Linked DNA regions of Homo sapiens. The protein of the gene in region 2 interacts with the protein of the main gene of each other region in a pairwise test. Each region holds a gene or a part of one and is shown on either strand. Other genes may lie near its edges.

Region 1 (3,543 bases), on a different chromosome or scaffold from region 2:
CCTGGGCTCTAGTGATCTTCCTGCCTCAACCTCCCAAACAGCTGGGACTACAGGTGCACACCACCTAATATTTTTGTAGAGACAGGATCTTACTATGTTGCTCAGGCTGGTCTCAAACTCCTGGGCTCAAGTGCTCTGCCTGCCTCAGCCTCCCAAAGTGCTGGGATTACAGGCATGAGCCAACATGCCTGGCCTGGCCCCTTAGCTCTAGTTCGCCTTCTGCAAGGATCACATACAGCAAATATTATCCAAATGGCTGACCTGCACCACCCTTATGTCCCTTCTACTGCCAATAAACCAAGGAGTAATACTTCACCAAAAACTTGTCATTCCAGCAACCTCCTCCTTTCTCCCATCTATCACCCCTTCATCTCAAGCTACTTTAGCCATTCATTTCAACAAATGCCTTGGAAATCTAACTTATCTACAGATTGTTTTTCCTTAACCTTCATTGCCTGTCTCAAAACCATCCCATTTATATTAGCTTTTTCTCCACTGTTAATATTCTAGATCAAAATAATTCCATCTAAAAAAAAATTATGACTAAAGCAGATTCTAGATGTTCCCTCAGCACCCAAATGATCCACTTTTCTGGATGTATGTTGTTAAATACATCAAAGAAATCAGCTTAAGTGTCTAAAATTTCTGATGCCCCAACTTTTAACTCCTGGGCTCAAGTGATCCTTCTGCCTCAGCCTCCCAAGTAGCTGGGACTACAGACATGTGCCACCACGCAATTATTTTTATTTATTTTTATTTTTTGTAGAGACAGGGTCTCACCATGTTGCTCAGGCTGATCTTGAACTCCTGGCCTCAAGCAATCCTCCCACCCTGGCCTCCCAAAGAGCTGGGATTACACGCAGGAGCTACCATGCCCAGCAGAATTTATTTTCCTTAGTAATTAACAGGAATCTACTTTTCTTTTCTTTTCTTTTTTTTTCTGAGAGGAGTCTTGCTCTGTCGCCCAGGCTGGAGTGCAGTGGCGCGATCTCAGCTCATTGCAACCTCCGCCTCCCGGGTTCAAGCGATTCTCCTGCCTCAGCCTCCCAAGTAGCTGGGACTACATGTGCATACCACCACACCAAGGTAATTTTTATAATTTTAGTAGAGATGGGGGTTCCACCATATTGGTCAGGCTGGTCTTGAACTCCTGACCTCAGGTGATCCACCCACCTCAGACTCCCAAAGTGCTGGGATTACAGGCGTGAGCCACTGCACCCGCCTGAGATTTTTTTTTAATTCCAACTTTTCTTCAACATTCTTGCTAATAACTAATTTCCTCTTGTTCCATTTTATGAACTTTTAATCAAATACCAAACTAAAATCTACTTAAACATGTTGAGTTATCTACAGTTATTATGGAAAATTTCAGCCATAAGTGCACTTAAAGGAAATGAAATCTCTTAGCAGCTGATATAGTTTATGTGTCCCCTCTAAGTTTCATATTGAAATATAATCCCCAACTTTGGAGGTGGGGCCTGGTGGGAGGTGTTTGGATCATGGGGGTAGATCTCTCATGAATGACTTGGTTGCCATCCCCTTGATGATAAGTGAGTTATTGGTCTGAGTTCACACAAGATCTGGTTCTTTAAAAGTATGACACCTACCCCTCTTTATTCCTCCTGCTCCCACTATGCATAAGACACCTGTCCCCTCTTTGCCTTTCATCATGATTGGAAGCTTCCTGAGGCCACCCCAGAAGCAGATGCCATGCTTCCTGTACAGCCTACAGAACCATGAGCCAATTAAACCACTTTTCTTATAAATTACCCAGTCTCAGGTAATTATAGCAACACAAGAACGGCCTAATACAGCAGCTAACTGCAACTTAACTGTAGACTATATGTAAATAAGCCAATATTAAGCCATTTCTGGGGTCTGCCAGGTAATGAAAACAGAGAAGCTATCCTCTATTCCCACATTTTTCCTTTTAAAACATAACTTTTCTAATAGTCTTCTCCCCTATGGCTAGGACCTAATTATCCTTCCCTTTCCTTATTCCTTATTCTCTGTCTGCTGTAAGCACAGATTGACACATCAGTGTTGCGTCTCTCAACCCTATTAAATCATCATCTATGTACAAACAATTTTTTTCTTTTCTTCTTTAGACAGGGTCTTACTTGAACTCCTGATTCATCTGTTGCCCAGATGGAGTACAGTGGTGCAATCATGGCTCATTGCAGCCTTGAACTCCTGGGCTCAAGTGATCCTCCTGCCTCCACTTCTAGAGTAGTTAGGACTATATAGGCACCCATCACCACTCCTGGCTAGTTTTTTAAACTTTTTGTAGTGATGGGGTCTCACTCTGTTCCCTAGGCTGGGGTGCAGTGACACAATCATGGCTCAGTGCAGCCTTGAATTCCTGAGCTGAATGAAGCGATCCTCCTACCTCAGCCTCTTGAATGATGGGACCATTGGCATGTGCCACTATGCCCGGCTAATTTCTGTATTTTTTTGCAGAGACAGGGTTTTGCCATATTGCCCAGGCTGGTCTTGAACTCCTGGGCTCAAGTGATCCTCCCATCCTAGCCTCCCAAAGTGCTGGGATTACACGAATGAGCCACCAGGCCCATACCCTATTGATATATTTTTAAAAACTGCTTAACTAGGGCCGGGCATGATGGCTCACGCCTGTAATCCCAGCACTTTGGGAGGCTGAGGTAGATGGATCACGAGGTCAGGAGATCCAGACCATCCTGGCTAATATGGTGAAACCCGGTCTTTACTAATAATACAAAAAATTAGCCGGGTGTGGTGGCACATGCCTGTAGTCCCAGCTACTTGGGAGGCTGAGGCAGGAGAACTGCTTGAACCCAGGAGGCGGAGGTTGCAGTGAGCCGAGATCGTGCCACTGCACTCCATCCTGGCTGACAGAGCGAGACTCTGTCTCAAAAAAAAAAAAAAAAAAAAAAGCTTAACTAATCCTCTGCGTTAGAACATTTAGGTTGTTTCCAATTTTTCTGTAATAAATAGTACCAATATAAAATCTCTTTGGACAGGCCTGGCATGGTGGCTCATGCCTGTAATTCCAGCAGTTTGGTAGGCCAAGGCGGGCAGATTACTTGAGGTCAGGAGTTCACGACCAGCCTGGCCAACATGGTGAAACCCCATCTCTACTAAAAATACAAAAATTAGCCGGGCGTGGTGGTGCACACCTGTAGTCCCAGCAACTTGGGAGGCTGAGGCAGGAGAATCGCTTGAACTCGGGAGGTGAAGGTAGCAGTGAGCCTAAGATCATGCCACTGCACTCCAATCTGGGATACAGAGTGAGATTCTGTCTCAAAAAAACAAAACAAAGGCCAGGCGTGCTGGCTCACACCTGTAATCCCAGCACTTTGGGAGGCCAAAGCGGGCGGATCACCTGAGGTCAGGAGTTCGAGACCAGCCTGGCCAACATGGTGAAACCCCATCTCTACTAAAAATACAAAAAATTAGCTGGATGTGGTGGCGTGTGCCTGTAGTCCCAGCTACTTGGGAGGCTGAGGCAAAAGAATCGCTTGAACCCAGGAGGCAGACGTTGCAGTGAGCTGAGATCACACCACT
Region 2 (4,020 bases):
TTCTAACAACTGCCCACTTCTTGAAAGGCTTTCCTGTTTAGTTTACGTGGAATAATTTTACTAATTTTGCTTTGCTGTTGTGGAATATATTGTGGTTGTACTCTTTGTGTAGGAATGCAAGACAAGCTCACTAAATGCTTTCTTAAATTGGACGCTTATTAATCTTCTAGACATCACCTTCTTTTGGAACTAGAAGTTATGAACGACCTTCACCATACCAACACTGTCTGACTGAATTTCTCTCTACCCTGAATGCAAGAGACCAATGGTTAGGCAGGAATATTATCGCCCCTAATCAGCCTGAAAAAGTTACAGAAGACGAATCTTTGTCTCTCTGCAACTCTTAGGATTAAGGGTCCTCTTGTAAAGGAAGGCGAAAAATATGTCAGAATCATTTGAACCAGAGCGACTCCGTTTTGAGAGAGAGCTAGGAAAATGACGCTGAGACTCGCTGGGCTGCATTCTCAGTAAGTTAGGCATTCCTAGCCTCTAGATATTTATGGTTAAGGAAATGAATTAATAATGTTTACTAAGCAGAACCAGACGGAGGAGTGTCCAGATATTCCAACATCTGGGGAATAAAGGTATTCCTAATTTTGCTTTAAAGATAATATCGAGTCGGCCAGGCATGGTGGCTCACGACTGTAATCCTAGCATTTTGGGAGGTCGAGGCGGGTGGATCTCCTGAGGTCAGAAGTTCGAAACCAGCCTGGCTAACGTGGCGAAACCCCATCTCTACTAAAAAAAACCAAAAAACAAAAATTAGCCCGGTGTGGCTGTGTGCACCTGTAGTCCCAGCTACTATGGAGGCTGAGGCAGGAGAATCGCTTGATCCCGGAAGGCGAAGGTTGCAGTGAGCCGAGATCGCGCCATTGCACTCCAGCCTGGACAACAAGAGCGAAACTTTGTCTAAAAAAAAAATTATTCACATATTTAATACGTTGAAAAAAAGACAGCAAAGAAGAGAGAAAATTTTTCCGTGTTCTGAGATGGGCCTCGTTCAGCTCCGGGAGGAAGCCCCGCCTGAAAAGGCTGAGGCTTAGGCTGTCAATCTTTCTTCATTCAGCCCAACGTCTGATGACATCTTCTGTCACTCAGGGCCTTAGAAAGCGGGGTTCTTAAACGTTATCCAATCAGAGACGCTGTCCTGGGAACTGTCCAATCAGGCACGCAGCTGGAGCGAACAGGGCGGCTTCCGGGATTTGGCGGGGCCTTTGTCTCTATCTGCGGCCGGAGCTCCAGGTCTCGTCCTCACTACTCTGTGTCTTCTGCTTTTAGGGGCGCAGCCTCTGTGGCCCTGTGACCTGCCCCCTGGAAGCCTAGAAATGGTGAGAGTGCCGGGTGCGACATCCCAAGAGAGGGAACGGGGCTGGCTGGAACCGGTGGGAAGCGGCAGTGGCGGGACTCAGGCCTCCTCGCTGTCAGTTTTACAATCTGCGCCCGAGTTGTTGCCCAGCTCGGCCTCAGTCCCTTCAGCCTTAAGATGGCGGCTGCGCTGACAGCCGGGCTCCCGGGCGTTCTGTCTCTTCACTGCGCAGTGACTGTGCCCTGGCCTGGAGCCCTCTTTGGGCAGCTCTGCACCAGTAGCCCCGCGTCTCTCCCAGATTGTGCAGGGACCATGGGAGGAACGTCAGGGCAGAATCCTGACTCCGGGTGCGGGCTCATGAATGGGAAGAGCTTTGGTCCGTGGGGTTTTCAGGCCATTTTTTCCTATTAAAAATTTATGGGCCTCACTGCAAAAACATTAAATAATTTAAAGTGTGATTCAAAAATTTTAGAGCACCTTGCTGTGGTTTCTAATTTGTATTCCATGGAAGGAAAGGTTTTTATAAGTTTCATCATAAAACCAAATTCCGTAATTGGCTAGGTACGGTTATGTAGATTTTGTTGTTATTTTGTTGTTGTTGTTTTGTTTTCATTTTCTTTTTTTTTTGAGGCAGAGTCTCTGTTGCCCAGGCTGAAGTGCAGTTTCGTGATCTCGGCTCACTGCAACCTCCACCTCCCGGGTTCAAGCGATTTTTCTGCCTCAGCCTCCCTAGTAGTTGGGACTACAGGCGCCTGCCACCACATTTGGCAATTTTTTTTATTTTTAGCGGAGACGGGGGTTTCACCGTGTTGGTCAGGCAGGTCTCGATCTCCTGACCTCAGGTGATCCACCCACCTCGGCCTTCCAAAGTTCTGGGATTACAGGCGTGAGCCACTGCCCCCGTCCTAGTTCTTAATTTTTACAATCAAGGTGGAAATATCATGGTTATGTAATCAGAGCTTAATTGGCAGTTTATAGTTGGTTAAGCGTTAAGCCTGAATTTTGTTTCTGCCAATGTAGTAATTTACAAAAAAATGCTCTTGAGTTTAGACTTTTTTTTTAGAAGTAGAAATCCAGGGACTAGAGCCACCTCAATCTAATTTCCTGCCACTTAATGGTTTTCACACTCCACAGGGGACTGATTTTTTCCCTGAATTTTTCACAAGTGTCCCAAGCAGGGCCTCAAGTCTGCCCCTCATCCCTTATTCCTCCAGCCTGACTGGCTTGCAGTAAAATACTAAATTTCCAGTTTTGTCTGACGTTGCCAAATGCCAGTTTCTCCTCTCTAATTGACTTTATCAACTATTTGTCCTTTAGTGTACATATTGATACCTATTTTAATGAATCTTTTTTTTTTTTTAAAAGTATTTGAGACAGAGCCTTGCTCTGTTGCAGTGCAGTGGCTGGAGTGCAGTGGCATGACTTAGGCTCACTGCAGCCTCCGCCTCCTGGGCTCAAACGGTTCTCATTTCTGTCTCCCAAGTAGCTGGAATTACAGATGCCTGGCACCACGCCTGGCTAATTTTTGTAGTTTTAGTAGAGACGGGGTTTCACTATGTTGGCCAGGCTGGTCTTGAACTTCTGGTTTCAAGTCATCCTCCTGCCTCGGCCTCCCAAAGAGCTGGGATTACACATGTGAGCTACCGTGCCTGGTGAATTAATTATTTTTTGACAAAGCATTTGATGGCACATTTACAATGATTTTTTTTCTAAATATTTCCTACGAGAATAAAGCAAAGAATAATCTGACACTATTGTAAAATATCTGTGTTTTTTTCTTTTATTTTACCTAGTCACAGATATCTTAGAATGTTTTTGGGTCAAGATTTTTTTTTTTTTGGAAACTTCATAGGGTGACGTATCTTCAGTCACACTTCAGTTTTAGACAATCAACTAATTGAATGGCCTGACTTGACACATGAGTAAAACATATCTGTACCTTGAAAGGATTTGTTCATTTGCTTTGACCTAAAGTTTATTTATGTATCTTTTTAAGACAGAGTTTCCCTCTGTCACCCAGGCTGGAGTAAAGTGGTGCCATCTCTGCTCACTGCAACCTCCAAATCCTGACTTCAGGTGATTGTCATGCTTCAGTCTCCCAAGTAGGTGGGATTACAGGTGTGCACCACCACACCCACCTAGTTTTTGTATTCTTAGTAGAAATGGAGTTTCACCATGCTAGCCAGGCTGGTGTCAAACTTCTGGCCTCAAGTGACTCACCTTCTTTGGCCTCCCAAAGTGCTGTGATTACAGGCATGAGCCACTGTGCTCAGCTGACCTCAGTTTTTTAACTGTGTATTGCATTTTATTAGTAGAGCTTGAAAGGTAAGGAAATATTTACAAAGGCCATAAAAGGTGAGTTTCAAAAATTAATAATATATTTTACTTGTTGAAAACTTTTACTTTATCTTTCTCAGAGTGAGTTTAGAAATTTTCTCAGGCATGTGCTTTTATGGCTGAGTGATTTCATACAGAAGTCCATCTAGCTTTTAGAATGGTAGCTACCAAAGAAAAAAAGAAAAAAAAAAAAAATCTCTGTTCAATTTCAGCTGTAGACAATGAATACATTTCCCCAAAAAATGTGGTAGATAATTGGTGAGTTACATATATTACTGAAAACTTCAGTTCCTTTTTTTTAGCAGGGTAAAATTTTGACAGTGAATATCTTTATTCTGTATCCTTTTTTGTTTGTTTACTACCTGATTTTTAATACA

The links. Proteins that work in one complex are often made in the same cells at the same time.
Region 1: the proteins of ZNF726 (region 2) and PFDN2 interact in binary tests that used the Homo sapiens proteins (3 or more experiments, as listed by UniProt).

What each region holds. Positions count from the first base shown.
Region 1 is NC_000001.11:161,104,535-161,108,077, forward strand, and holds part of PFDN2 (prefoldin subunit 2), read right to left. Parts: intron 1-3,543. UniProt on the Homo sapiens protein: Binds specifically to cytosolic chaperonin (c-CPN) and transfers target proteins to it. Binds to nascent polypeptide chain and promotes folding in an environment in which there are many competing pathways for nonnative proteins.
Region 2 is NC_000019.10:23,913,670-23,917,689, forward strand, and holds the start of ZNF726 (zinc finger protein 726), read left to right. Parts: upstream 1-1,216; 5' UTR 1,217-1,325; coding exon 1,326-1,328; intron 1,329-4,020. UniProt on the Homo sapiens protein: May be involved in transcriptional regulation.